Homo sapiens: one gene and its partners. The protein of the gene in region 1 purifies or fractionates together with the protein of each later gene. This does not show direct contact. Each region holds a gene or a part of one and is shown on either strand. Other genes may lie near its edges.

Evidence for each region.
Region 2: the proteins of NUP88 (region 1) and DICER1 purify together in Homo sapiens (co-immunoprecipitation; one large-scale study listed by IntAct). This does not show direct contact.
Region 3: the proteins of NUP88 (region 1) and PDZD9 purify together in Homo sapiens (affinity purification with mass spectrometry, with the first as the bait; one large-scale study listed by BioGRID). This does not show direct contact.
Region 4: the proteins of NUP88 (region 1) and TRIM62 purify together in Homo sapiens (affinity purification with mass spectrometry; 2 studies listed by BioGRID and IntAct, with this or other methods). This does not show direct contact.
Region 5: the proteins of NUP88 (region 1) and SEC24B purify together in Homo sapiens (affinity purification with mass spectrometry, with the first as the bait; one large-scale study listed by BioGRID). This does not show direct contact.
Region 6: the proteins of NUP88 (region 1) and AAK1 purify together in Homo sapiens (affinity purification with mass spectrometry, with the first as the bait; one large-scale study listed by BioGRID). This does not show direct contact.
Region 7: the proteins of NUP88 (region 1) and STK38L purify together in Homo sapiens (pull-down; one large-scale study listed by IntAct). This does not show direct contact.

What each region holds. Positions count from the first base shown.
Region 1 is NC_000017.11:5,402,246-5,406,657, forward strand, and holds part of NUP88 (nuclear pore complex protein Nup88), read right to left. Parts: intron 2,999-4,412; coding exon 2,812-2,998; intron 2,002-2,811; coding exon 1,854-2,001; intron 1-1,853. UniProt on the Homo sapiens protein: Component of nuclear pore complex.
Region 2 is NC_000014.9:95,102,030-95,105,529, forward strand, and holds part of DICER1 (endoribonuclease Dicer), read right to left. Parts: intron 3,218-3,500; coding exon 3,042-3,217; intron 2,098-3,041; coding exon 1,317-2,097; intron 1-1,316. UniProt on the Homo sapiens protein: Double-stranded RNA (dsRNA) endoribonuclease playing a central role in short dsRNA-mediated post-transcriptional gene silencing.
Region 3 is NC_000016.10:21,987,328-21,991,739, forward strand, and holds part of PDZD9 (PDZ domain-containing protein 9), read right to left. Parts: intron 1,465-4,412; coding exon 1,275-1,464; intron 1-1,274.
Region 4 is NC_000001.11:33,164,494-33,168,905, forward strand, and holds part of TRIM62 (E3 ubiquitin-protein ligase TRIM62), read right to left. Parts: intron 2,303-4,412; exon of another isoform or gene 1,074-2,302; coding exon 978-1,073; exon of another isoform or gene 1-977. UniProt on the Homo sapiens protein: E3 ubiquitin ligase that plays a role in antifungal immunity by mediating 'Lys-27'-linked ubiquitination of CARD9 downstream of C-type lectin receptors; leading to CARD9 activation, followed by activation of NF-kappa-B and MAP kinase p38 pathways.
Region 5 is NC_000004.12:109,432,087-109,436,948, reverse strand, and holds the start of SEC24B (protein transport protein Sec24B), read right to left. Parts: upstream 3,135-4,862; 5' UTR 3,080-3,134; coding exon 2,947-3,079; intron 1-2,946. UniProt on the Homo sapiens protein: Component of the coat protein complex II (COPII) which promotes the formation of transport vesicles from the endoplasmic reticulum (ER).
Region 6 is NC_000002.12:69,514,399-69,518,810, forward strand, and holds part of AAK1 (AP2-associated protein kinase 1), read right to left. Parts: intron 2,649-4,412; exon of another isoform or gene 2,353-2,648; intron 352-2,352; coding exon 73-351; intron 1-72.
Region 7 is NC_000012.12:27,250,501-27,254,912, reverse strand, and holds part of STK38L (serine/threonine-protein kinase 38-like), read right to left. Parts: intron 1-4,412. UniProt on the Homo sapiens protein: Involved in the regulation of structural processes in differentiating and mature neuronal cells.

The DNA of each region.
Region 1 (4,412 bases):
GAAGTGAGCCAAGATCGTGCCATTGCACTCCAGCTTGGGCAACAGGAGCAAAACTCCATCTCAAAAAAAAAAACAAAAAACAAAATACAAAAAACAAAACCCAAGAACAAAACGTCCACGTCTACACTTAAGATTTCCCAAAGATATACGTATCTATATGAGGAAACCAATTAGTTTATGTCACTTTACTTCATTTGGTCTGTTTCCTCATCTATAAAATTCTTAGACAATATAAATCTCAAAATACCTTAATTAGACAAACCCAATGTACACTCTTTGCTGGTTTGTTATGTAAGGAATTCTGCCCCCTTAAATGTTTTGCCTATACTTTAGTACAGAGTTGAGGCCGTTATTACCAGAACTAGGCAAACTGGCTAACAAGAACTGTAAGGAGAGTAGGTCAAACTGCTACAAGATTGAAATCCTCCTATGTTGCAGTGAATGACACGATTTCATTCTTTTTTAAAGCCAAATAGGGCTGGGCATGGTGGTTCACACCTGTGGACCAGCACTTTGAGAGGCTGAGGCAGAAGGATCACTGGAGCTCAGGACTTTCAGCTTGGACGACATGGCAAAATCCCGTATCTACCAAAAATACAAAAATTAGGCGTGGTGGTGCACACCTGTAGTCCCAGCTACTCCAGAGGCTGAGGTGAGAGGATTGCTTGAGCCTGGGAGGCAAAGCAGTGAGCCAAGATCACGCCACTGTACTCCAGCCTAGATGACACAGTGAGATCATATCACACACACACACACAAAAGCCAAATGGTATTCCACTGTGTATACAATGCCACATTTTAAAAATCCATTTGGGGCCAGGTGCGCGGTGGCTCACATCTGTTATCCCAGTACTTCTGGAAGGCCGAGGCAGGTGGACTGCTTGAGGCCAGGAGTTTGAGACCAGCCTGGCCAACATGGTGAAATCCCACCTCTACTAAAAATACAAAAATTGCCAGGCGTAGTGGCTCACGCCTGGAATCCCAGCACTTTGTGAGGTCGAGGTGGGCGGATCACAAGGTCAGGAGTTCGATACCAGCCTGGCCAATATGGTGAGACCCCCGTCTCTACTAAAAATACAAAAATTAGCAGGGCGTGGTGGCACATGCCTGTAGTCCCAGCTACTAGGGAGGCTGAGGCAGAAGAATTGCTTGAACCCAGGAGGCGGAGGTTGCAGTGAGCTGAGATGGTGCCACTGCACTTCAGCCTGGGCAACAGAGCGAGACTCCATCTCAAAATAAATGAATAAATGAAATAAAAATATAAAAATTAGCCAGGCATGGTGGTGGGTACCTGCAATCCAGCTACTTGGGAGGCTGAGGCAAAATAATCGCTTGAACCTGGGAGATGGAGGTTGCAGTGAGTCGAGATTGCGCCATTAGACTCCAGCCTGGGTGACAGAGCCAGACACCATCTCAACAACAACAACAACAACAACAAAATCCATTTGGTCTGTCGATGGACACAGGTTGATTCAGCATCTTAGCTGTTGTGAATAACACTGCAATGGGCATGGGAGTGTAGGTATCCCTTCAACCTATTATTTCCTTTCCTTTTGACATACCCAGTAGTGGAACTACTGAATAACATGGTAGTTCTACTTTTGAAAGGACCAGGAAAAATTCACTATTAGGAATCTGGTGATCTGGACCAAAGACCACTATTTTAAAACTTGGGAAATTTGCTCAGTCTGCCTTAGACAAAAAGTGTACTATAGTGACTAAAAAGCTAAAAAAAACCCAGTCAACTTTTTAAAGGCTGGAACCACAGAACAAATACATTACATAGGAACAGTCTATGATAGTCTTAGTATAAAAATCATGGGAAAAAAGCACTACATTTATTGAAGAGCTTACCTCTATGAAGTTTGACTGGACAAGAAAAGTCAGAATCAAAAGGGTCATCCTCTCCAGATGCCAGTTTCAAAGCAAGCTCCAACTCAACACATTCAAACACATACAGAGAAGGAATGAGGTCAATCCTGGAATCCCAGGACTTTTCTGACTGTAAAAAAAAGTGTTGTAATTTTGATCTTGCATGTTAATTTGAAAATGTACACAATTAAAAACAGGCAAAAAGCTGGGTCAGGGCCGGGTGCGGCTGTTCTTGCCTGTAATCCCAGCACTTTGGGAGGCCGAGGCAGGTGGATCATCTGAGGTCAGGAGTTCGAGACCAGCCTGGCCAACATACTGAAACCCTGTCTCTACTAAAAGTACAAGAAATCAGCCGGGCGTGGTGGTGGGTGCCTGTAATCCCAGCTACTGGGGAGGCTGACGCAAGAGAATCGCTTGAACTCAGGAGGCAGAGGTTGCAGTGAGCCGAGATCACACCATTGCACTCCAGCCTGGGCACCAAGAGCGAAACTCTGTCTCCAAAAAATAATAATAAAAAATAAATAAAAAAATTGAAAAAAAAGCTGGGTCAAACAGTACTTTCAAATTCTTAATTCCACCTCTATCCTAACAGTGCACTGTTATTCTGAAGACAAAACGTCTCTCTTCCTTTAGGAAGATGTTTGTGAAAAAAGCCAATTCAGTGATTCCAAGGCTCTTTGTATCTGTCCCTGAAGATTGCAATATAGAGACCAGAAAGTAACATGCAGACTGGTGGACCAAGTAAGTTGGGCAACCTTCTAACTTCTTTCCACTTAGACTGCTAAGTGTGCTTCAGCTACTTTTTTAACTGTTTAATTTCCAAAATATCAGAAGTTCCATAAGTAAGTTAAAATTCCTTCTCATATATTAAGCATTCATATTGGGTCAGGAACTATGCCAGGTGTTGAAGATACAAACAACCACAGCAGCCTGCACTTACCGTGTGGTCATCTTCTTCTTCCCCTTCTAGCACGACACAGTGATACAGCATTCCTGATTCAGTAGCGATCACTAAGATATTGGGGACACAGGGTAAGCAGAGTACAGCACACGCATCATAACCATAGTTATCTTCAGCCGCAGGATGCATGGGCAATGGACCCAACAGCTTTCCAATATTTCCAGGGCTAAAGAAGGAGTAAAAACATATTTGGGAAATGTTGACAGTATGCATGCTCATCCCATAAAACCATTCTTTGACTTTGTTTTCCTCCAGCTATCATACCTTCATTATAAATGTAGTGTATTCCCAATACTCCATCTTCTCGCTTTCCCACTCAGATCCCACCACTCTGTGTTTCTCAACCAGAGATAATTTTGCCCTAGCGGACAGTGGCAATGTCTGAAGACATTTTGGCTTGTCACAACTGGTTGTCACAATGTGGGGGGAGGTATTAGCATCTAGTGGTTAGAGGCTAGACAGAAGCCGCTAAACATTCCCGCACAGCACAGCACCTCTAAAACAAACAATAATTCAGACCAAAATGTCAATAGTACAAAGGTTGAAAACCCTTGCCCTAAATTTACTATGGTTTATGCTTTCACCACTCCACTGAAGCTACTGTGGCAAAGGTCACCTGTGAGATTTGCTAAATCCAAAATGCACTTAACCTTCTGCTGCATTTATCACTGGTTAACGACTACTGCTACTCAACAGCTGTAACAATTCTTTCTTGTAGTTCTCTCTTCCTACCTCTTTAAACACAATTTTCTAACGTCCTTTTCTAATTTCTGTCTCTTAAATATTGGTGTTCTCCAGGATTCTGTTGTATGCTTTGACTTTTTTCAAAATACACACTTAAATGAGAGCCTGTTAAACTATGCCTCGTTTTAACTACCATCTATATTCAAAGACTACCAAATCCTTTCTTCTAAAATGTAGCTTCTCTTCAAGGCTTTGGATCCCCATATTAAATTTGATTTGACAAATACTTATTATTGAGTGCTAGATGATACTCCCAGTGAATGATGGTTTAGTTGATGAGGCAGACATTTAACCAGAATTACTATACCATGTGATAAGTGCAACAACAGAAGGATTTATGGTGTACAAAGGAATGACAAAAAGATACAAAGATAATGAAGAAAGCTATAAAAAATAAATGAGAAAAATGAGAAAGAATGATTTCTGGGAAGGGGATTGTTGAGCATTCCAAGCTAGAGATCAGTTTATGCAAAGTCCTGGAAACATGAAAGACAAAGAACTAAGAACAAGAAAACTTATTTAGTATGATGGGAGGCAAAGTACAAGGTGGAAGGCAACGGCAAAATAGCTAGACAGACATCCAGGACTGGCTTATGAAGTACACAGTCTTGTGTGCTATGTTAAACTATTTGAAATCTATCTGCCGGGTAACAGTATATCACTAGAGGTTTAAATCAAGCGATGGAGCCTCACTTTACAAATCAGTCTGGTATTAGGGAGGAAGACATGGAAGGGTCCAAAATGGGATTTGGGGAAACTATTTAAGAAAATAAGCCAGGCAGATGGTGAAGTAGGCAGATGATGCAGTTCTGAAGCAGGGACAGAGGAATGCAGAG
Region 2 (3,500 bases), on another chromosome or scaffold:
AAAATAAAAGTTTCTACCTCTCAGAATTATAAAAATTAAATTAGGTTTATATGCATATATGTGTATATATGTGGGTGTGTGTACGTGTGTGTGCGTATACGGTTATCTTTTAGAGTAGTGCAGAGTAAGCACTTTTAAATTGTTAGCTAAAATTATTTCTTCTGAAATTCTCACTCACCTCAGCCCCTTCCTCTCTACCAGAACTCTAGTTCTATCCCATTCTCTGCTTCTGCTGTTGGTTTGGATATGCTTTTCAACTCACACTACATTCTGCTACCAGATTAATCATTTTAAACTACCACTTTATTAACATTAATAGTTCCTTGCTCTAAATTCCTTCAACAGTGCCTACAACATTCAAAACACGTGCAAACTCCTTAGCCCAGCATTCAAGGCCTTCCACGATACAGCTTCACCCCAGCTGCCTTTTCAAGCCTTTTCTCAGGTATTTCCACACTTCTGACTGCTGCCACGGCTGCTTCCCTGACGCTGACATGCTCTGCCATCTGTTCACTTTGCTTATGCACTGTCAACTTGCCTCCTCCATTAATGCCATCCTTGATTCAACAGTGATGCTCCTTCCTTCTGAGTGCTGCAAGTGATCAGCAGCTTTCTAAGGTATTTGTCCAGGAGGCTCATGTTGCCTTGTGAGACTTTTTTCCATTTTTCCCCCATAACTTGAATATCTTACCTTCATTCCTTTTCTTAAGTCTTAGTCCATGCTGAGTTTAAGAGCCCGCCCTTTCTCTGAGCTATCGAGCGTTAATTACTCAGAACTCTGGTGTCACCCTCTTCACACTGGAGAGCAGCCAAGCTCTGTGAAGCTTGTTACTCTTCTCCGCTCCACTCTCCAAAACTTTGGAGATGAGCTCCTCCACAAGACTTGTGTCTTACTCATGTCTGTATGCCTTGTAAGCCAAGACGTACCCTCTCAAATAAATGTTTAACTCAACAAAGCAGAAGCTCCTTGACTGACTACAATGCACATTTCTTCATATCCCCCTCAGGATCAAGGGGTGTACACACTTGCATAGCTTCCTTTGAACTGACTTTCAATCAAAAAGTAAGGCACGTGGAGATCAGCTAAGCCCCAAAACCTGAGTGTGGGATTGGTGTAAAGCAATACTCATCAACTGCCAGGTAGTTCTGCCACAGGCTTTCGCTGGCCCTGGTAGAACAAGGGAGCAGCTGTGCTTGGCCGGTGTAGCAATTTCTGAGCATGATACGTTCTCATCCTCTGAGATTATCCAACACTGCAAACCACTTTCAGGCACACTGAATAATTAACTGCTCAAAATAAAAAAATCATCTCTTACCTTTTTGCTTCTCATATATGAAAGGCGGCCCTCATGCGCATCAGGGTAAGTGCAAAATAGATATGTGGTGATGGCATGCTTTAAAAAGGAGTCGCCAAGCATTTCAAGCCGCTCCAGGTTAAATCCATCACTAGCGTTTGACAGAGTCAAAGCCTGAAGAATAAGTCCAGGATTGGGGCCAAGAGTCCTTGAGGAGTACCCAATAGAAGGGCTCTGCTCAGAATCCATCCTGCCCTTGAGCACTTGAATAGTGTCTGTCGTACCAGGCATTACGGCCATCACAGGACTTCCATCTGAGGTAGATTTGTTAGCATTTCCATCAAGGTATTTATTACTCAGGAGAGTACATTCATCGCTGGGCTGGGGCTGGTTCTCGTAACTGTATAAATTCTGAATGGAATATGAGGTAGTTGGTTGCACGGGTATTTCCTGCTTGTAGTAATTTAGCTGATTTCCTTGGCAAAAGTCTCTGTTAGCTAAATCATAACTGCCATTGGCGAGATTTTGATTGTAAGAAAGACCATTAATTGCTGTAAGATCTGCTGAAACTTCAACGTGGAGCTTACCAGGGGACTCGCTGAGCAACGTTCTGCAGTTCACAGACATTTGGTCATGATTTTCTAGAGAGGAGGTTCTATTAGCACCTTGATGTGCAGCATTTTCAGGGACAATTGTGCTGTGCTTACAGTAATTATCATTTTCAGCTGAAGAGGAGTTAGAAATTGAGATGAAAGATTTGCTGTCAATAGATTTTTTCCACCCGAAGTCTAAGTTAGGGTATCTGCAAAGACATTTTTATAACTTTACATCAGATTCTTCAAAACAGCTAGGCTGAGAGCAACAGCAATTTGAATTTAAAAACAAAAACAAAGATCCCAAAAATGTACTCCTAAACTTTAGAATAGAAGCAAGTTTCCAAATTTTTAATTTACAGTGTAAATTATAAAGTGGGACATGGTTTTATCTACTGCTTTAATCCCTGGCCCTAGACTCTAGGTGTGGTAGTTAAGAAGGTCACGAAGCTTGCAGGCATCCTGCAGGACCTGGGGCCTAGCTTCACGGGTTGGAATCCCAGGCACTCTGGTTAACCCGCTGAGTAACTCTGGGCAACTTACATAAACTCTCTGTGCCTCAGCTTCTGCACCTGAGAAAAGGGCTAACAATTCCTATCTCATAGCACTGTCTTAATGATTAAATGAGCTAACTAACACAGGGTACAGCATTTAAGCTAGTGTTTGGCACTATAGCAACTAACCAATAAATATTGTGGTTATTCCTATTATATTTTAAAATTCCTTCAATCCCTAGAACAGTCTTGATATTGCCAATTGGATAACCAGAACTAATGTGAGTGTTTAAGCCAACAGTTTCTTTAGAATGCAGAGATTTTACTAATGGGAAGAAAATAATGAAGACAAAGAACATGCTAAGGCTATTGCTTTTTAACATATATTTGGATTTTTAAAAGAAAAAACAGACTGAAAATGCTGATGCAGTAACAAAGAACAATTTCATTCTCACTCCAACTGTTATGGCTTAAGCAGTAATGGTTATTTCTGACCTCAGATTCTCATCTCCCTCTGAGACTTGACAAGACATAAGATATCCATTATTTTCTTTTTACTCTTTTAAGAATTATTTTATATACAATTTTAACTTAATTCTGTTCTTTTGCAAACAGGATCTCATGATCTGTGTTCTTTCTGGCTGACTGCACAGGCATACCTAAAATCCGCAGGAAGTGATCTGACTCCCACGCCAGCATCGCTGGCAGTCTGGGCTCTTAGCTCCTCTGCAGTCAAAAGGCAGTGAAGGCGATAAAGTATGCTGGGGAGACAAACAGCTTTTCTCCACAGTGATGCTGGAATTGGATGTATAGCACAGAGTTCTGGAACCAGTATCTTCAAGTAAGGGGAAAAATGGACAGATAAATACAAAGCGCACACACAAAAGAAAAAAAAAAAGACCAATTTCACTAATGGATAAAGAAAATCATAAATGCTAGTAAAACTTAATTTTAAAAAATATTTGTAAAAATAATCCTCTAAGGCCAAATGGGATTTATCAAAGGATTTATGAGAATGATTTTGTGATATATTAATGGGCCAAGTATAAAAACAAAACTCTCAATACTTACCAAAAAGAACATTCAAATAACATTCAACACATAATACTAATTAAAAC
Region 3 (4,412 bases), on another chromosome or scaffold:
GAGAATCACTTGAACCCGAGAGGCAGAGGTTGCAGTGAGCCAAGGTCACGCCACTACACTCCAGCCTGGGTGACAAGAGCAAAACCTCGTCTCCAAGAAAAAAAAAATACAGTTTTGGTGATAATACAGTTTGAAAGTAATTAGCATGTGGATAGTCATAGAAACCACAGGCATCAATGAAACTGGCTAGGAGAAAGGACACCAAGAGGAAATGGCCAGAGGTAACAGGAAAATCAGGGGAGTGTGGTGTCACAGAAGCCTGGGAAGTGCTATTTCAAGAAGAGAGTGGGTGGAAATTGTTAAGTGTCTAATGCTGCTCAGAAGCCAAGCAAGATAAAGACAGAAGAATCTAGTGGGATCAGAAGTGTGAAGGCTATGGGTGGCCCTGGGAAAAGGACTCAGCCAAGGGATGAAAGCAAAGCCTAGATTGAAGTGGGTGGAGGAGTGTCTGGGAAGTGGCGTCTTTCGAGGAAACAGAGGTGTCTAATACAGCTTTTAGCAAGTTGGGAGTGGATGCAAAAGACTCCAGTGGCTAAAGAGGGTAGGGAGAGGAGAGTGGACTGAAGATAGGATTTGCCAAGATGGGAGAAGTTTAAAAAGGCTTAGATGTTATTGGGAAGGACCCAGAGAACAAAAAGTTGAATACGGAAAAGAAAATAGGATTTGCAAGAAGCACTTTTTTTTTTTTTTTTTTTTTTTGAGACAAAGTCTCGCTCTATCTCCAGGCTGGAGTGCAGTGGTGCGATCTCGGCTCACTGCAACCTCCGACTCCCTGATTCGAGCGATTCTCCTGCCTCAGCCTCCCGAATAGCTGGAATTACAGGCACGCGCCACCACATCCAGCTAATTTTTGTAATTTACTAGTAGAGACGGGGTTTCACCATGTTGGCCAGGATGGTCTCGATTTCGTGACCTCATGATCCACCCGCCTCAGCCTCCCAAAGTGCTGGGATTACAGGCATGATTCACCACACCTGGCCCACAAGAAGCATTTTTAAGGGCTGACTCGGGAAAGAGGGGCACCATACAGGTAGGCATGGGGACAAAATTCCCAACCGATGACTTGTTTTTTAACTCCAGGTTGACTTCATCGTGCTTTCTCATATTAGATCCTACAGATCTAATACCAGAAACCCAGGAAATTACTCTGACAGTGTCACCAGTCCTCCTGTCATGATCCTTATCATTTGATAATTGTCACATTAAACCATCTATGCCTCACAGGCCCTGGGATTCTGTATTATAACAAAGAGTTCCTAAAATGAACTATTTACCTTGTTACTGGGAATTTGGCCTCAGGGATTAAATCATATATTTCTTGCCATTCTTCAGGAATGTTAATAAAATCTCGGTAAACCTTGATTTGTAGCACTGTTCCAATAGTGATATGTTGCAAAAGCTGTAAAAATTCTCGAAGAGTATATCCTAACACATTGGCATGGCCAACACTAATCAGAACATCACCTGAAGAGGGAAAAAATTATGTATCAGTAAAACTAGAGGTTTAAAGGGACTATATTGATTTCTGGCTTTATTGTGAGGTATTTCATTTTATGGGTTCATATTGTTGATTCTTTTTGAACCAAAACCAGGCTTCAGCCTTTTTTTTTTTTTTTTTTTTGAGATGAAGTCTAACTGTCACCCATGCTGGAGTGCAGTGGCATGATCTCAGCTCACTGCAAGCTCCGCCTCCCAGGTTCAAGTGGTTCTCCTGCCTCAGCCTCCCAAGTAGCTAGGATTATGGGCATGTGCCATCAAGCCTGGCTAATTTTGTTTTTTTTTTTTAGTAGAGATGGGGTTTCACCATGTTGGCCAGGCTGGTCTCAAACTCCTGACCTCAGGTGATCTGTCCACCTCGGCCTGCCAAAGTGCTAGGATTACAGGCATGAGCCACCGTACCCGGCCCAGCCTTTATTTAATAAAGATGTTCATGTCCATGATATGAATGTCCTTTGCATACTGAAGAATGTATGCAAGATGTTTCTTAATAGCAGTATATTGGTAGACATTATATGATGTTTTTGAGACGTTTCTGAAGTTCTTGGTGTGACAGAGGCTAAAAAACATTTATAATCGGAACCAGCTGTTAGGATTCTAAAAATAGATTAGTTTCAGATAAAATGAATGGCTATTACTAGAAAAGAAAAAACCACTTACACTAAGTGGTGAATAAATGACCTACTTTCTATTATACCTGCCTGGCAATTTCCAGTGCCCTCCACAGTTAATAGACCATATTAAACATAAAGCCTTTCATTTTAATTCTCTACCCTTGTGCAGTATTAGTTGAGCAAATAATTCTGTATAAAACATTGGGCAATTAGGCATGCTTTAACTGTAAGATGTGTATGCAGTGAGTATGTTGGTTTAAAGGGATTTGACAGCTAGGTTTCCCTACCTTAGGGCAACGCAGGATAAGGAAAGAAACAAGATGGGCAACCATGCAGCTTCCGAGTCCCTGGCAGGTGGGAAGAGGACTACATCTTGAGCACTAACCCCCGAAACCCCCAAATTGAAGGAAGCTAAAAAGACCAATTTTTCACTTGCTCCAACCTCCCCCATGTCCCCACCTCCAGCAGCTAGGTCATGGACCTGTGAGTGAGATCCAGCTACTTGACACTCCCACCTGGGTCACTGAACCTGGAGGAGGAGATGCAAAAGAGTGACAGGAGCTTCTAGTTGCTAGGGGTAGTTACACACAGCTCTTGGTTCTCTCACCATTTTCCAAGCCTGCTTCTCCAGCCTTTTGGGAGATTCTGTCAGACTCAGTATCCCAAATTCAGTGCATTAACAGAAGTGTTTTCTGTTTTTTGCAATGAGGAACCCTGGCTGCTACAACGGCATTCAGCAAGACTTCAGAAAGGAATACAAAGGATTTGCTTTTTAAGGACCAGCTCACATTGGGCAAAATCTTAAGTCTTCAGATCTTACTAGTACTGACCTTCTGGAGACCCTCAATCAGCCTCATTCTAAGACAGCTGAAGCCTAACCTCAAAGAAGAAAAGGGTCAAGAAGTGCCTTCTCTGATGCATGCACTGGGCTTCAATCAGGAATTACACTGATCCCAAAAGAAGCCTCTAAGGATGCCAAGGACAAATGTCCATAGCTCTAGATCCTATCAGAAACAAAAGTTCCCAGAATTCCAGAAAACAAATACTTACAAGGGTGGAGAAAAACCTTCTACTTTGGTCTTAAGCAGTAGCTGGGGGTAATACAATCAACCATGTATCTGAAGCTCACTTCAGAATGAAACAAGGCTACCTGCAGCTTGAGCAATATGAAACAGCTGCTCATCCTACTGAGGTTAATTACAATGGCAAAACAAAACAAAACAAAACAAAAACAAAACCCTCCCCGGATGAGCTTACTTACCTAATGTTAAAAGCAGTGTTTATAGCTGAAAGCTATGGCTTGGCATTCTGCTTAATTATGTTGTAAAAGTGTGACTTTTATCAAGAGGGCAGAAAATAAACAGCTTAATTTCCTGACCGTTCTGGCTGTAAACCAAACATGTCAGCATGTGAATGTGATTACTCTAGCAATAGATATTAACATTGCCCTTCATACAGAAACACCAATTTCGTACTTATGAACACCAACCTCATTACACCTTTTTTTTTCTGTTTTAATGGGCTATAGGATGACATTATATAAACTTTGTCTCGATTACCTACAGTAAATCAACTTTGCAGCAGCCAAGCCACTACTGAAAAATATTTTATCTTTTTCATCTCTCCCAACTAGGCTGGAAGTTCCTTAAGTTCCTCAAGGCTAAGGACCATGTCTGTGCCGTTCACCACTACACCCCCAGTGCCTAGCTGGGTGTCTGCACACACCAGGCCTTTAGGAACTGCTTAGGCAGTAGCCAGTCCATGACTTGTATTTACTGTTGAAGCTACATTAATTTCTTTTTTTTTTTTTCTCCTGAGACAGGGTCTCACTTTGTCACCCAGGCTGGAATGCAGGGATACAAATACAGCTCACTGCAGCCTCGACCTCCAGGGCTCAAGCAACCCTCCTGCCTCAGCCCCTGGAGGAGCTGGGACTGCAAGCGCATATGCCCACCATGTTGGGCTAGTTTTTGTATTTTTTATTGAAATGGGGTTTTGTCATGTTGCCCCAGCTGGTCTCGAACTCCTGAGCTCAATTTGCCCGCCTCAGCTTCTCAAAGTGCTGAGATTCCAGGTGTGTGCTATCGCACCCGGCCTACATTAATTTCTCAAGACTTAGAATGTCAGAATCTGTTAAGGCCATACTGCCCAAAAGGAACTAAAAGTTTAGCCAGAATAAACTAACACTAAACTAAATTAGGAAATCAAGGTGAAACCCTATCCTGAAACACCAAAGGAGAGAAATTTCAGCACATAGATAAAAGATAATGGGGCTGGGAGGAAACGGGGTCAAAGAAATAG
Region 4 (4,412 bases), on another chromosome or scaffold:
GGACCCAGGAAAGCATGCAATTTACCCAAAGTCACACAGTGAGTTAGTGGTGGGATCAGAACCCATGTCCTTCTCAAGTCAGTGGAAAAGTCTGTTTGTTTGTTTGTTTGTTTGTTTCCCAAACCACGGTAGCCAGAGACTGCAGAGTTTGGCCCTACCTTTCAGAGTCTGTATCCCATGGCCTGAGCTTAAGGGGAGATGATACCAGGGCTGGGCCACCTCTGGAGGGCTTCGAGGGGACATGCTCAGGATTGACTCCTAGGCAATGGGCTTATTCATTCATTCATTCATTCATTCATTTTAGAGACAGGGTATCACTCTGTCACCCAGGCTGGAGTGCAGTGGCATGATCATGGCCTACTGCAGCCTCAAACTCCTGGGCTCAGGCAATCTTCCCATCTGTCTCAGTCTCCAGAGTAGCTGGGACTACAGGCATGTGCCACTACGCCTGGCTATATTCAATTTTTTTTTTTTTTTTTGTAGAGAAGGCATCTCGTTATATTGGCCAGGCTGGTCTCAAACTCCTGGGCTCAAGCCATCATCTTGCCTCGGCCTCTGAAGAGACTGGGACTACAAGTGTGTGTCACAACACCAGGGTTGGGCGGTTTTAATAAGGGGAGAGGAGAAAGAGACTGAGCACATTCCCCAGCCCTTCAGGAGGCAGGGGGTTTCCGGAGGGTCCCGGGACCCGCCTCAACTTCCACCCAAAGTGGGAAGGGAGAAATGGCCCCGTCCTTAACCGAGGGACCAGCCCACATCCTTGCCGCCAGTCATGATGGGGTGGGTGCCGCCCCATTGAACTTCACGGATGCCCTACCCTCTTCCCCACCCTGCCCTTCTCACTCCAGGTTTGGCTCCTTGAAGCCAGGTTTCCACCGCACACCCGAGGCCCCGCCCCTCTTCCCCAGCTGGCCCCGCCCCTCGAAGCCCTGCCCTCATCTCTGCCGGCCCCACCTCCGCGCCCCGGCCAGGCTCACCTTGGTCTCCGCCAGTTGTCGCTTGAGCAGCTGCAGCGCTTCGGTGTGTTCCCGCTCGCTGTCTTGAAGGGCCTGAAGTTGGTCCTTCAGCTCCCTCTGAAACACACACAGGGCCGGGATGGGGGCAGGGGCCATGCCTGGCCCAGGCATTCAGCCCTGACCACTGCCAGGCGCTGGGGGTTAGCCTGGTCTCTGTCCCCAACCTCCAACACTTGCCTCCCGTCACAGTTCAACCACCAGCAAGTCCTGTAGAGTCTGTCTCCTAAACACCTCCAGAACCCGTCCGTATCTTTCACCTGCATCTTTGCAACAACCTCCTCCTCTTTGGCCACCCTAGAGGCTTCTGTGACAATCGACTTCCACATACACACTCTCTGGCTCCCCACACTTGGCCCTGGATCCCCGCTTAGAATTAAGGCAGGGGTCTCCAACCCCCAGGCCACAGGTGGGTATTGGTCCATAGCTTGTTAGGAACCTGGACGCACAGCAGGAGATGAACAGTGGTGGGGAGGGGCAAACCATCTGTATTTGCAGCCGCTCCTCATCGCTGGCATTACCACCTGACTCCACCTCCTGTTGGATCAGTGGTGGCATTAGATTCTCACAGGAGTGTGAACTGCACATGGGAGGGATCTAGGTTGCCTGCTCCTTATGAGAATCTAATGCCTGATGATCACTCACTGTCTTCCATCACCCCCAGATGGGACTGTCTAGCTGCGGAAAAACAAGCTCAGGGCTCCCACTGATCCTACATCATGTTGAGTTGTGTAATTATTCCATTATATATTACAATGAAATAATAATAGAAATAAAGTGCACAATAAATGTAATGTGCTTGAATCATCCTGAAACCATCACCCCACCCCCACCCCCTGCGGTTTGTGGAAAAATTGTCTTCCATGAAGCTGGTCCCTGGTGCTAAAAAGGTTGGGGACCACTGCTCTAAGGAACCAAAGCTGTACCAGTCCAATGCTACAGACTAGCTGCCAACATTCTCCGAGGGCTACAGTGGGCTGGGCACAGTTCTTAGCTCTTTGCTTATATTAAATCATTTGGGCCTCTCAGTAACCCTAAGGGAGGCACAATTATTATCTCCATCTTCTGATGGAGAAAAAGATACAGAGAGGTCAAGAAACTGGCCCCATAGCATACAGATAAACATATAATGGTAAAGAAGGAATTGGAACCCGGACAGCCTGGTTGTGGAGACCATGATCTTGATGCCAGGTGACACGTTTTCTACCATGATGACTCCTGCGATGAATAACAACAAATCCACAACACACAAGATATCAAAATTTTAAATAAAAACACAATCAGCCTCACTGATTTTTCCTTTGTCTCAGGTTCCAGTGTGGCTCAGCAGAGCATTGTTAGTGATCCTGGCCTTGTTTGAAATGTTGAATTTTGTTCATCGTGGGTTTTTTGCATTAATTTTGATTTAAGAAATATTGCATTAAATACTATTCATCTTGATTGCTGAGTTTGGGGCACCCTCTGATCCCACCTCTGTCTCCAACACCCTCCCCCATCACTCCCATCCAGCCAGTGGCCTTCTTCCTGTGCCTCCACCATCTTGAGCTCGTTCCAATCTTCAGACTATGCCCTGGCTATTCCCTCTGGCTGGTGGCCTCCACTCTCAGAGTTTCTCACGGTGACTCCTTTGTACCATTAATTTAACTCAGATGCCACCTCCTTGAAGAGTCTTGCCTGACCGCCCCACGCACAGTGGCACCTCCTCATACCCTGTCACACATCTGGATTCACGGTCTTCCTTGCGCCTTCTGCTGTCTGAATATATTTGACTGTGTGTTTATTGCTTATCTCCTCACTAGAATGTGAGTTTCATGAGAGTAGTAGGAATCTTGTCTGGCTTGTTCCCTGCCTTATGCCCAGGGACTCAGTGATTATTTGTCAAGTGATAAATGGGTTGTGGAGGTGAGTGCTCCCTAGCACAGGGTCCAGCTGTCTGCAGGCATTGGGAATCTAGCCCATTGTATTATCGCCAGTTGTTCTCCTGTCTGTCTCTTCTTCGTCCCCGTATTGGCCCACAAGTCCTCCAGGGTGGCTCCTACTGCTCCCTCTCCATATACCTCACACCCAGCAACAGCCTGGCACTGAGATGGGACTCAATGACGCTTGCTGCGTGAATGAAGTTCCTGGAAATGGCCTCTGAGTTCCCCAAGTCAGTCTGGGCTGTGAGCAGTGCCAGGAAGGCTGACTTACCTGTTCACATCCACCTCCCTCCCACTCATTCAGCTTGTCAGACCAGGGAGGGCCTTGGTAAATGTCTAGTTCAATTAATTTTACAGACTAGGCAGCAACATGGGAAAATATTCATGATGACATGCTGATGGAAGAATGCAGGAAACAAAATTATCTTTGATTACTATCAATTATTCATTTAAAAAACATTTCTTGGGCAACTATTATGTACCAGGCACTGTTGAGGCACTGGGATTATGGCGAAGGACAAGACAGACACAGTCCCTGATCATAGGGACTAGTCTGGTGGGGAAGACAGACAACAAACAAGGAAAATAATAAAGGAGCGAGGTTACCAATATGGTGTGTCCTGCAGAGAAAATAAAGCAGTGTGAGATGGAGGGGACTTTAGGTAGGGTGGCCAGGGAAGGCTTCTCTGAGGAGGTGACAGCAGAAGGATGAGGAGGAGCCAGCCATGAAAATGGGGGTAAGATAGAAAAATACAAGCTGCTTGTTTTGAGAGCCCATGCTGATGCAATTGTTGGAACTCTGGCAGCCATCTCAGGCCATGAGGCAACTGTAAAGACCAAAGTCACAAGCTGAAACCAGAAGAGTAGAAGGAAGAAGGAGCCCGAGTCCCTGATGACTGTGGGGCTGCCACACCATCGGTTTACTCAGTGACATGCTAGGAAGCTGGCTGTCTGAGAAAAACTTTTTTTTTTAAATCCCCAACAGTGCCAATTTCCATGGTGTAAATGTTCCCACTCAAGTGGATTTCAAGCCATCAGTGTGAAGTAGTAGTTGGACTTGGCATTGGGATGAGATGCACACAATCAGCTCTCAGGAGCCAGTGCAACCTGCCGCAGCACACCCACCTGGAGTCCTTTCCTAGAGACTTGTCTTACATGAGAGAGAAACGCACCCCATCTGACTGCAGCTACTTCAGCCAGGGCTCTGTTACTAACAGCTGAAAGTCATTCCTAACATTCGTGTGCAGCTTGAGCGGATACAGTCCTCGGAGCAGAGGAATCTTGTTTGCCTAAGAGAGTAGAAAGACCGCTCCTCAGGTGCCTCTGACAGCCTTGGGCTATCCAGCCTGGGACACAGTGTGGCTGAGAGGCAGATGTTGAGGAGATGGGCCAAGTGCTACAATTCTCCCCCTGGTGGCCCCCATGGGTCCACAGAAGACCCAGCCACCCAGGCAGCTCTTCAGGATTTCTGAGAAACTGC
Region 5 (4,862 bases), on another chromosome or scaffold:
ATTTAAATTTATTGTTTATTATAAAGGATATTACAAAGGATACAGATGAACAGCCAAATGAAAGAGATGTACAGGGCAAAGGATGGGGGCAGGTGCCGCCACCCTCCCAGCATCTCCACATGTTCAGCAACCCAGAAGGTCACCAAATCTTACTGTTCCAGAGTTTTTATAAAGCTTCATCTCCAGCCTATCCACTCCCCTTCAAAGGGGATGATGGGTGGGGACTCAAAGTCCCAACTCTCTAATTACTTGGTCTTTCTGGTTACCAGCTCCAGCCTGAGGCTGTCTAGGAGACCCATCCTAAGTCATCTCATTAGCACAAACTCAAATGTGATCAAAAGACTCCTTATGAGTAGCAAGCGACACTCCTATCACTCAGGAAATTACAAGGGTTTTAGGAGCTGTTACAGGAACCCAGGACAAAGGCCAAACGTATTTCATATCACACCACAACACTGAAGTGAGTGATTTCTAGGTACCATTCCAGTTTTACAATTCTGTCTGTTTTATGCTCATATTTCTGACCTATTTCTTTTTCACCATGTCTGGAATTCCATAGAGATATATTAAAAGGCTAACTACTTTTGTAGGACTGAAAAATAAATGAGAAACCCAAATGACTGCTTACTACATGCTGATACCACGTAGCAAACTTTTTTTTTTTGAGATTAGCAAACAAAACAAAAAGAGATTTAATCTTGTTTCTCTACTTAAACTAATCCCTTCCACAAAAACAAAAATCCTTCTGGAGGATAAGGTGTGAGGATCACCTGAGCCCAGCAGACCAGCCTGGGCAACACAGGGAGACCTCGTACTCTACCTGACCCTAGTTCTTACACTTTACCATAACTTTCAAATTTCCTAGCATAACATTTAAGGCCTTTCTGCAACCTGACCCCTTTTAACCTGCTCCTTTCGGCTTCGATGCCTTGGCTTCCCATGCCACCCAGCACCCTCTGCACCTCTTGACTCCTTCCACTTTCCAAGCATGCCCTGCACTTTCATATTTCCAAACTTTAGTTCATGCTGTAACCTCTGCCTAGAGTCAACCTTTCCCTCCCACCCCAACCTGTCGAGTCCCTCAAGGCTAGCCAGAACCAATTCAAACATTACCAAATACAGGGCAAGTCAGGAGAGAGGCAGGGACTCTGTCTCATCTGCTACCCTAACCTTGAGTCCCCAACTGGTAAGCATGCAATAAATGTTGAAATGATTATTGCAACATTAAAGGAAAGTAGTGATTATAAACAAGAGAACTCAAGCATCATCTATATTTGGCATCAAAACATTGATTTGTTCTTACAGATTTTAACATCCTGATTACACTTGGCTGAGTACATATCCTGGCATTCTTGAGTGTTCACAAAATTTATAAGGCTGTAATAAACATTTGCCACTTTAAAAACTGTTCACTAAGATGATAATGCATATTCAGAAAATCAAGGAAAGACACAATCCTTGAATCACTGGTAAACATGAGTCTACAATGTTCTAAAAGACTTGGGCTCTTTTACTAAATTATCGTGTTCTAGTTCCTTCATAAAGCTATTTTAAAAACAAACAAAAACAAGAACTTATATTAAGGTTACAAGAACAAACACTGCTCACAAATAGTATTTTTACATTTGTTCAGAACAGGTTTATATCCAAAAGCGATTATAGTAAACAATGACTACTGAGAGTACAGCATGTAATACTGATAGGTAAGGCTGATCCAAAGAATATTAAGGCTAAAGTATCACTCAACTTCTGATCCTCAGGACAAACGATACACTTCATGTTTGAAAAGCATCAGTTGTAAAACTTAGATGTTGATTAAACTAATTCATAAAGTCCAGCAGATTTTCATTAGGAAATTAGATAAAACAGGTCAATCATCTGGAGAGTACTAATGCAGTTTGGTTCTCGTACCAACACAGGACAGAGGTATTTTTCTAAATTCAGTCAATTACTTTCCAAGGTTCTCATCTGACATACTAAGAAGTCTGTAAGGAGAATTCCTCCACCCTTGGCCCCTATCCGCGAACATTCCAAATCTCAGCATTAGGGAATGCATATCCATCATTTTGCAGCCTACTAAAAGCCCACGACCTTAATATGAAAGCGGCTTTCGTGCTGCATTTGGCTGCTGCCTGTATGAAGGCCCTGCCTCAAAGCAGGGCCAACTCTGGCACGTTTTTTCATCTCTGAAAGTGGAGCTAGGAAAAACACCCAGATCTAAAGATGTTCGTTTAAATCCGTTTACATCTGCTCCCTTTCAAACACTACAAGCAAACTCCAAAAGCTTGAGCAGCAGCCGCAGCGGCAATGACAGTTCTTGAGGCCGAACTGGGTCAGGGTTACAGTTACACTTATATAGCATATTTACACCCTTTTGTCTACAAACTTGAGTGCAAACTTAAGTTTCCTCAAGGCAGCGTGTTCGCTGGGCCTCGGGAACCGAAGCAATTTTCCTGAGACAGGAAGGGCACAATCCACCCTGCTGGGTGGCTGCACCAGCCTTCTCCGGACCACGCACTCAGCGGCCTCGGCTTCTGGCCAGCTCTCGCAGCCAAGGGGTCGCTCGGGGCAACTCGCCCGCGTCCAGGCTAGGTAACTGGGTTTTACTACGTGGGCTCCCAGCTTTTCAGTCGCCCCTACTCGCCCGAGGCCGTTTCGGGCCTGGGGTCGCATTACATAAACAGCCACGGCCCCAGCTTTCCCAGGCCGGCCCCCGCCCCCACGCCAGGGGCGTCCCACCCCCGCGCGCCCCGCGCCGTGCCTTCCCTGCCCCCTACCCGCACCCAACCCGGACCCCGCGGCCTCCGCACCGCGCCCGCTCCCGTCCCTCGGGCCGGGCCTGGCCCCGAACGCCCTTCCCGGCCCGGCCCGCCCCGCCCCGATGTGGCCGTGCAGGCCGCCCAGCCGGTGCTAGGCCCCGCGCTCCGCCCGGGCCGCCCGCCTCACCGTTCTGCTGGTGCGGCGCCGGGCCCGCACCCGGGCCCGCGGGCGCTGCGGCTCCTGAGACGGCCGCTCCGCCGAACTTGGGCGGGATCCGGGCGCTGGCGGCCGGGTGAGAGGACCCGGCGGGGGCCGACATGACGGCGCTGGTGGCGACGGCGGCTCCGCTTCAGGGAGGTGGGCGGAGGGAAGGGAAGGCGGGGCCGGAGAGGAGAGAGGAAGAGGAAGGAACGCGCCTGGCGTCACTGAGGGTGTCACCCGGGACCGCGGCTCAGGTACCCAAGCTTCTCCGCGAGTCCAGCGCTGCCACTCGGCGGCCGCCGCGGGCGCGGGGATCCTGGGTCGCTCCGCCTTGACCCACGCGCCCCACGCCCCGGGACTTACACCTGGGGTCGCTCCCCGCACGCGCGGGCCTCGCGCCGGTGCCGCCGCAGCGCCCCCTGCAGGCCGGAGCCGAGCTGGCCCAGGCCTGAGTCTGGCCCGGGGTTCCGTGGCCCCAGTGCCGGCCCCGCGGCTGCTGCTCCGGCCCGGCCAGGTGCCTTCGTGTTGAGGCGAAAGGACTGGGCCTCAGTGGGTGAAGGGACCGGGTGGCCCGCTTCCACCTAGGGCAGAGGCTGGATCGGCCGCGGCGAGGCTGGGCCCAGCATTACTGGGAGGGGAACTTGAGAGCCGCGGGTTGATGTTCGGAGCTCAGGCGACGACTGACCACCCACCCTTCCTCGAAGAGGAACAATGGCTTGGGTTTGGTTTTTAATTTTTGATTCCCCCACCTCCCCTTTCTTGATTCCAAAGGAAATATAGCATTCAAGCGCCATGTCTGTTGGGAATATATAATTCCTTGGCAAAGAAAGAGGAAACATTTCTCTGATAAACACAAGAATCTCAGTAAGAATTGCATTATTGAGAACTTTTCCCACTGATAAAGTAGGGAAGAGGAAGGGGAAAATAGGGTAAGGGAATGCTGGAAGACAAACTTTAAACTTTATCTCCTTTTTTTTTTTTTTTTTTGTCGATTGTTGGTGCATCCTGTTGGTGTTCCGAGAAGTTGTGGCTCAGCTTGCTTTGTCTACATTAGTGGAATCTTTAAGTCTTTCTGGTCTGTCTCAGCATACTCACTGGCAGGCCCTAGACTACATTACCCAAGTCATTTTGCCGTCTTGGAATCCTGAGTATGTCATCACTCTGTATTGGAGATGAGATTGCTCAGAAACACTGAATTCAGAATGGGATCTAGCAAGATGGTATTTCTGGAGCAATAAGTCATTTACTGAATGATTATGCAAAGCATAAATTGCATTGTAGTCCTAGAATAATACAAAGCTTCCCTTTAGTTGTTGCCGTAAATTAATAACTGGCATTTTAATGCACTAAATGAATTTTAGTAGTTAGATTTATATCTTTGACTTCTAGGAATTTCAACTACATTAGAGTTCATATACACAAAAGGGGCAAGCCCTTTTCCACAGCATTTCCAGCTTCTCCACAGAAACCTAGCCCCACATGAGCAAAAGATCACACTCTGTGCTTCATCAAAGAGATTACACAATTACAGATTCCAGCATCTCCCAGGAGTCCTTTGAATTTGGATTAAGGTCTATAATTACGTGGGTAAGGGAATAACTAGGTAATTGGCTTTCTGCACCTGGAATGTATTCTCCTGGGTATAAGAGGCTCCTTTTAATCAGAAGTATATGGGATGAAAGTGAACCCTGTCTCTTAAGGGGAGACTCCTTAAGAGGAGGATTGGGGCCCTGTGTTTTAATAGATCTTCTCCACAATCTTTAATACCTAAGCTCCTTCCCCTTGTCCACTAATTTGCTGTAGAATTTTTCTAGCATGTTTATGATGGTGTTCAGGGCACACTACCCCAAAATATAACACCTTGGCATATTGAATGTTTTAAGCTGATGGAATTTGAGAAA
Region 6 (4,412 bases), on another chromosome or scaffold:
CCCACCCTTCCCCTAGCTCTCGCTGCACATTCCTCTGCTGCTTTTGTGCTCTGAGCTCTGGTTGATTCTTACCGCTGGCTCCTGGGCAGGGGCTGGCTGTGGGGCTGCAGCTGGCTGTGGCTGGGGCTGCTGTCCTGCTGCCATAGTGGGCTTTTGCTGCAAGGCAGCCTGCTGAGTCATCAGCTGTTGTTGATGCAGGGCTGTGGCCAGCTGTTGCTGTTGCTGTTGTTGTTGCTGCTGCTGCTGCTGCTGGTAGAAATTCTGCATTAGCTGCTGTTGAGAGCCTCCTTGGGACACCACAGGGAACTGAGCAATTGCTGGTTTCTGGGTTGCTGGATGTACTGCCTGAAACTGAGCAAGAAATGAGGAGATGAATAAGGGCCTGTCCCAGAATAATAGTCACAAAAGACAAATGTCTCAAAAACAATGAAGACCAGTGCTAAAGCCAAAGGCAAGGGCAAGTAGAAAAGTCTTGAGGCTAGGCCTAAAATCTCATGATAGAGACCTCAGGGAATTAAAATACAACACAGCAGCAGTCCCTTACACTGCTAGGCTCCATCCATTGCACCAGGCTGCCTCCTGCACTACAGACTGGCCTTCCAAGTGGGTTTCTGGGCCTTGCCTAAGGGAAGCTATCTGACTAAACATCATGTGACTCCATAAGCTAGAGTATAGCAGGAGCTAATAAACGATCTCCTAATCATAGAGGTAATCCTTCTTATAAAGGGATTTGAAGTAGCCAAGATTAAAATGCTTCCCTACCTGAACAGGATGAAGCAATGATGACACTGAAAAGAATAACCTAAATGTTAACTCAACTATTAAGACTCATCTCAAGTCTTACTAAAAATTATTTCCCAAGAGCTCCATTTTTATTAAACTTCCTTAAACATTCAAAATAGCCAGTGTGCTCTATGACGCTTCCTTTTGTTTGTTTGTTTGAGATAGTGTCTTGCTGTGTTGCCCAGGCTGGGATGTAGTGGTGCAAGCAATCTCGGCTCACTGCACCCTTGACCTCCTGGGCTCAAGTGATCATTCCACCTCAGCCTCCTAAGTACCTGGTATCACAGGTGCACACTACCATGCCTGGCTAATTTTTTTTCTTATTTTTTGTAGAGACACAGTCTCACAATGTTGCCCAGGCTGTCTCGACCTCCTGGGCTCAAGCAATCCTCCCGCTTCGGCCTCTGAAGATGCTGAGATTACAAGCATGAGCCACTGTATCTGGCCCACACTTCTTATATGTCTCTCTAATCCCCACTGTTAGGGGCTATGTGCTACATACACAAACAGAGCTCAAAATAAGGGCCTGCTGATGAACTAAGGTCAACACTGTATCTTTGAACATCCCGTATACTTTACGTAGTTATTAGAGTCAATTGGGAGGATACTGTTTGTCTACTGGGGCAAAGTTAAAGGGTTAACAAATTAGAAGATGTCAAAAAAAAAAAATAGCTGCCTACTTATAACAGCAAAATACTGGAAACAACCCAAATGTCTATCAACAGGAGACTGGCTGATTAAATATTTATGATAGATATATCCTGAAGGAAATATCTAATAGAATACTCTCAAGTTGTAAATAAGAATGAGCAATACCACTATATATGGGTTGGTGGGGATGGACTTTTGCAGATTTAACTCTGAAACTATGTAAATGTTTCACATATCCACAAAACAGAATTAAACTAAAATTTAAAAAGCAATAACTAAAAATCAAAAGCAAAACAATGCATATAAACCGGTGTATCAAATTGGTAGCTGAACGCGCCAGAAAATAATGTGCTAAACATTCTAAGGGTAAAATGGGCAAGGAAATCTTAAACTGTTTTCAGTAATCATATGGTTATTGCTATCTTAAAACGATAGAACAATTAATTATCTATGTTAATGCTGTTAAGAATCAAGATTTCCAGAAAAAAAAAAAAACAACAAAATCCAAGAAGTTAAACAGAAATCCAGTAATTACAAATCCAAATTAGGAATATAAATCCGAATTCATAATGCCTATTCTCCAACAAAACAAAACAAAATATATTTTCTAATTGTCCACTGAGAAGGCCTAGAAACAACAAGCAATCCATTAGGCAAATGGTATTTCTAGCATCAAAACTGTGGTTTCTAAACATTATTTGCACTAAAAAGAAACAGAGCTCCTAAGAAAAATGGATGATTTCAAGTTGAGGGCAGCATGATCCTAGAGGGCAGCATGATCCTAGATAGCAAGGAAATCATTAAAGACCACTGGAGTTACATTCAAAGGATTTAGGAGCCAATTTGAAGAGACTTCCACTGGCCAAAGTTGGGGCAATCTGAGCTTTAAAATAAATACATTTTTTAAAACTGCAATATGCCAGGCATGGTGGTGTGCACCTGTAGTCCCAGCTACTCGGAAGGCTGAGGCGGGAGGATCGCTTGAGCCCAGGAAGTCAAGGGTTGTAGTATGCTATGCTAGTTGGGTGTCTGCACTAAGGTCAGCATCAGTATGAGGACCTCCCGGGAGCAGGGGACCAGTAGCCTAAGGAGGGTTGAACCAGCGCAGATTAGAAACGGAGCAGGTCAAAACTCCAGGGCTGATTAGTAGTGGGATCCTGCTTGTGAATAGCCACTGCACTCCAGCCTGGGCAACACAGCAAGGCCCCACCTCTAGTAAAAACAAAACAAAAAAAGCAATGTATTCAAAGATATCAAATATGTTAAAATCTAAGAATTCCTAATGATACTAACTAAACTAAACAAAACAAAAACGTCACTGTTCACCTTTGGATGACAAGAGGGAACAAATTTATTACTCTGAAAACCAGTAAACAAAAGGAAAGAATCAAGTGTTTTTCCTGCCTTTTCTGTACAAACAGTACCTCAGGGTAGCTAAAGAGCTGATGAAAAAATTTCTTCATGGAAAACGTCCAGCCCTCAAATGAAGAGGGAATGTTAGAATATCACTGTGCCATCCCTGATGAATTAAGGAACTTGGCAAATGATCAGTGATACCTGCTAAGCTAATGGGGAACATTAAACAAATGGATCAGACAGACAACACCTCAATACACCGATTGATCTTTTTTTCTTCCTTTTTTTAAAAATATTTTTGGGAAACGCAGTCTTCAGGGAAATCTGAAAGTACACGCTCCCTGATCTTAATATCAGTGAAATAGAGGCCAGAGAGACATTACAGACCTCCTGACATGATGCAACAGGAAGAACAAAGAATTGTCAAACTGAATCAAATACTGAGTAAGCCTCGAGAAATTACCAGTGTACACGGAAGACGGTCAGACACATCAAATGACACCATAGCATGCAATCAGCTAAACCCAGAATGCCAAAAATTCCAAGGGACAAATAATCCAGTTTCTCCGAAAAATTAAATGACAAAAAGCAAAAAAAAAAAAAAAAAGAGGAGAGGGAACCTATGGATAAAAGGGGACTTAAAAGATATATCAGCCAGCAGCCGCATAGGCTAATGTGTGTAATTCCGATGATTTGGGAGGCTGAGGTGGGAGGATGGCTTGAGGCCGGGAGTTTGAGACCAGCCTGGGCAAAATAACGAGACCCCCATTTCTACCAATAAAAATTAGCCAGGCATGGTGGCACATGCTTATAGTCCTAGCTACTTGAGAGACTCAGCTGGGATGATCACTTGAGCCCAGGAACTGGAGGCTGCAGTGAGCTATAACTGCACCACTTCACTCCAGCCTGGGAAACAGAGCAAGACCATACCTCCAAAAAAACAGATATACTCATCATTATAAAATGAATACATTCATAGTAAAAAATGTGAAAAAAATATATGAAAAGATAATGGAAAACAATATAGACCAACTAAATACAATCTGTTAGTATTGGATACTGATTCAAACAAGCCAACTTAATTATGAGATATCAGAAACAGTTAAACACTAATGGATATTTGATAATAAGAAACTATTGTTATTTTTTCCTCTCTTATGATAATGGTGTTACAGTTGTATTAGAAAAAAGAAGAAAAAAAAGCAGTCCTTAAAAAAAAATAGTTTTTTTTTTTTTTTTTTTTTTTTTGAGACAGAGTCTTGCTCTTGTTGCCCAGGCTGGAGTGCAATGGCACGATCTCGGCTCACTGAACCTCTGCCTCCTGGGTTCAAGCGATTCTTCTGCCTCAGCTTCCCAAGTAGCTGGGACGACAGGCTTGCGCCACCATGCCCAGCTAATTTTTGTATTTTTAGTAGAGACAGGGTTTCACCATGTTGGCCAGGATGGTCTCGATCTCTTGACCTCGTGATCCACCTGTCTCGGCCTCCCAAAGTGCTGGGATTACAGGCGCGAGCCACTGCACCCGGCCAAAAAAATAGCTCTTGTACTGATGTTCCTCAATCAGATGACAGATTCCTCATGGCCTGAGTAAAAGGGTGAAAGGGGTGTGAGTGATGGATCCG
Region 7 (4,412 bases), on another chromosome or scaffold:
GGGAGTTCAACTTAATCCTTAAATATGGCACTGGTCCTACCAAGTGGTACCTGGAAGAGGTGTGGAGGTACTTGATCTCTTTTAACCATATGTACTTTTTCTCCCGCCCCCTCTCTGTGCCTCCCCTACCACCCCACAAGCCCGCTTTTCCTCCTTCTGTTCCTTTCACTTTCCTCCTGAGAGTGCCCATGATCTTTTAGTATTACCAGTAATGGCACTAAAGCCAAAACAGCTGCCAACCGCTGGCCTAGAAATACAATGGATATAATTTGAATTAGAGACTACCATTAACTTTTTGGTTGTCCTTAGAAAACAACTTTATATTCTGTTTCAGTGGTCCAATCCAAAGGACAGAAAAAAAAATAACCACTGTAGAAAGTAAATCTATGTAAAAAAGAAATCTGTAGTGCTTTTTATCTCTAGCAATCTAACGTAGATTATACATACAAAGTTTATAATAACGATTTGCACATACAGGTCTCTGAATGACCAAACAAGGATAGAGGAGGACCAGAGATGATGTTTGACACCATCTGAAGTTTAGGGTCATGTTAGTTATTAAACTGTGTTATTTTTAAAAAATAATAAGGCTTAGAGTAGAGAGGAGAAAAGAATCAAGGCTAGAACTAGAATAAAAGGACTTCATTATTAGGTATTACAGTCTTGGGAAATGTTTAAGAGTTCCATAAAACCCTATGGGAAAGGTAAATAATCATGTTCCTACCACAATCCCCTCCCTCAAGTCAGGTGCTCTTGAAGCTGTGCTTTGATGCAGCATTCTCTTTATACAACAACCTCGGTGGTTCTAGGCTTCATCAAAGAAAAGGATTTTAGTGGATTTACTTTTCTCTTTATCTCTCTGGCTGATGGTATCTTTACTTTTTCTGTTTAATTTCACAAAATGGAAGCAAGAGACAATTTATCACCAGCACTGCACTCCAGGTTGGGAGTGAGAAGCACAGAAGAGGTGCTTCCAAGAGGCTACTAGAGGCAACAGAAACACTTTCTTACAAAAGCTCAGAGTGCTAAAGCTGGATAAACATAAATAGACAGCAAATAAAAGTTCATTGCTCCTGTCCAGCATCACGGCAACAATTCCGGTTCCTGTGGCCCCCTAATATGCTTCGTGTCTTACATCACTATGTGATAATACCCGCCTGAGGCTTCTCGGCCTGAAACACTCCTCCTCACCCTTCAAGTCTAAGCTCAAACACTCACACATCCTTGGAAAGCTTCTCTCACTATCCCAAGTAGGTGCCCCTCTCCCTTAGGTGTGCCTCTCACTGCTCTTTCATGACAGCTGCTATGCCTGATTGCAGCTATTTCTACCCCTGTGAATGTAGCTCTCCAGTCACCTGCCCAGCTTCTGAGGGAGCACCATGTCTTTCCCTTTCCATATCTCCTGGCACACGGTATGTACTTTATGTACAATTCACAGTGAAAGAACTGCCTAGGTTCTTTCACTAGAGAGACCCATCCATGCAAGTCTCTCCTTCCCAATCTCACCTAGTTTAGAACTTCATTATTATCACCTAGATTATTTGTCTCTTCACTGGTCTTCCCATTTCTGGACTCTCTTTCCTTGAATTCACTCCATATACACTACTGCCACTTACAACTCTAAGTAATTAATGTACCAAGTTGAACAGGTGGTGAAGTAGAGAATGAAAAGCTGGAAAACATCAATTCTCTAAGTTCAAAGGGTTCAAATCCAACAGAGCAGAAAGAGAAGTAGATAATTAACAGAACTTACCAGGTGCTGTACAGATACACCCAATTTATGCTAATCCCTCTGCGTGGCATGTCCTTCACTCTGAAATGCTCAATTCATATTTCACTTCATATAGGAAGCTTTCCTAATCTCTACAGCCAGAAGCAATCTCTCTTTCCTCTGCTCCCACAGTACCCTGTTACTCCGTTGTCACTTTCTGTTTGAATTACAGTCATTTGTACCCATACATTATACCTCTTACTGGACTGAACTTTTCTAAATGGAGGGCCAAACATCTATTTGTCTCTATTTTGCCATGGTACCTAACACAGTGCCCTGCAAATAGCTGATAAATAATGAATTATGATGATTAACCTCACTAAAATATTATGAGTCTGTGATTCCTTTAGGATTTGCCAGTATCAAGAATATCAATGGGTCATATACATGCAATTCAGTACTAAAATTTTCCACTCTAGCCACAAAAATAGAAAAAGTCTATTCTGTTTGTCTAGATAAGAGTCGACATATGGAGAACATCCTCAACCAGATCTGAAAATGTTCAAATGAAATGGATCGCTGTTGTGAAAAACACAACAAAGGGCAACTCCCTAGTACTACAATAAACTGAGCAACCAGCCTCTGCTGCCAAATACAGAAAAGTCGTAAGGGGCAAACACGGTGTGGTATTTCCACAATGGGAGCAGGTCAGTGGGTAGACACTTAACTAAGTAAAAATGAACACTGCTAGTAAAAATTAATTTAATAAAACAGACACTAGTACAAGATAGTATGTCAAAAATGGATCATTGAATAAGCTGTCTGAGCTCTCAAACATTATCACTTTCCAGAAGTGAATACTACTTGCAGCTTATCCATTCTTTTAAGGATCATATTCAATTTTCTACAAAAGTGCTTTTGTAGGCCGGGCATGGTGGCTCATGCCTGTAATCCCAGCACTTTGGGAGGCCGAGGCAGGCGGATCACGAGGTCAGGAGATTGAGACCATCCTGGCTAACACGGTGAAACCCCATCTCTACTAAAAATACAAAAAATTAGCCAGGTGTGGTGGCAGGCACCTGTAGTCCCAGCTACTCGGGAGGCTGAGGCAGGAGAATGGCGTGAACCCGGGAGGCAGAGCTTGCAGTGAGCTGAGATCGCGCCACTGCACTCCAGCCTGGGTGACACAGCGAGACTCCGTCTCAAAAAAAAAAGTGCTACTGTAAGATACCTCAGCAAGCCCTTGTTAGGATTCCCAATTCCTTAATTTCACTGTTTATGTCTGTCCTCCCTTCACCCTATTCCTTTATCATAATTGTTTTAGTTAGAATGTAAGCAATTGAGTGCACAATGAGATAGACAATAACTTAAGAATTAAGGACTTTAACATTTCATGATTTAAAATGCAGAACTAAAATTCCAGGTTCTCAATTCTCACAAAACAAAACAAAGCTCAAGGCTTAAAACTTTAGAAAATGCCATGCTATAATGATATTTACCCACTCCTAATTGGCTTAAATGAAGTCAGAACATTTGATTATATCATTTATTTCAGCACTGTAATTGCTAAGGGCAAAAACCTTGTCTCATCAACTAATTTTGTAGAGGCCTTAGTGAACGATTTGCTTGTAGCAGCTTTTACTCTACAAGGAAGACCAGTGTGTTAAATAAAGTGTTTATATTAGAGTCGAAAGACCTAAGTTTAAATTCAGGCTCTGTCTCTTATTTTGAGATCTCAGACAAGTCACTTTAATCTGAGTTCCTCTCTTTACCTGAAAATAGGTGTAATAGCCATAACCCTCACTGCCTAGACCACATGACTGCTATGAGGATTAAGTAAGGAAATGTGTAAAAACGCTTCATAAAACTATAAAGTGTAATACAAATATAAGGGCTCCTGGTATTATTCTTAAAATAAGTGCTAAGAGTAAATCCCTGTCTATAAGAAATCAGAATACAATTGAATTATTTCTGCATACTTTTCCCAAGAGAATTTATGTCTGACATGCAAAACTGTAAATAACTCCTAAAGGGGAAATTACCAAAAAAGGAAGGGAAAAAAGAGAAGAAAGAAAACTTGGGGTGGGACTAGAAGAGGGAGGTAAATTAAAGAGAAAAGGAGAAGTTTTTGTAGTAAAATAATGCAATGTAAGAGAGAGCAAACCTGATCTGAAGAAGCAATTTCTTTTTTTTTTTTTTTTTTTTGAGACAGAGTCTCACTGTCACCCAGGCTGGGCTACAGTGAAGTGGTCTCAGCTCACTGCAAGCTCCACCTCCCGGGTTGACGCCATTCTCCTGCCTCAGCCTCCTGAGCAGCTGGGACTACAGGTGCCCGCCACCACGCCCGGCTATTTTTTTTATTTTTAGTAGAGACGAGGTTTGGCCATGTTAGCCAGGATGGTCTCAATCTCCTGACCTCGTGATCTGCCCACCTCGGCCTCCCAAAGTGCTGGGATTACAGGCGTGAGTCACCGCGCCCGGCCTGAAGGAGCAATTTCTAACTCTACCACTTACTATCTACCTGTGTGTCCCTGGGCAAGTCACTTCACCTCTCTAAGCTCCAATTTCCTCATTTGTAGGTAGAGATAATAACTCACAAGATTGCTATAAGGATTAAATGAGATAATATATATAAAGTACTTAGCACTATGTCTGGTGCATAGTAAGGGATAAGTGGTTACTGGCATTGATAAAATTATCA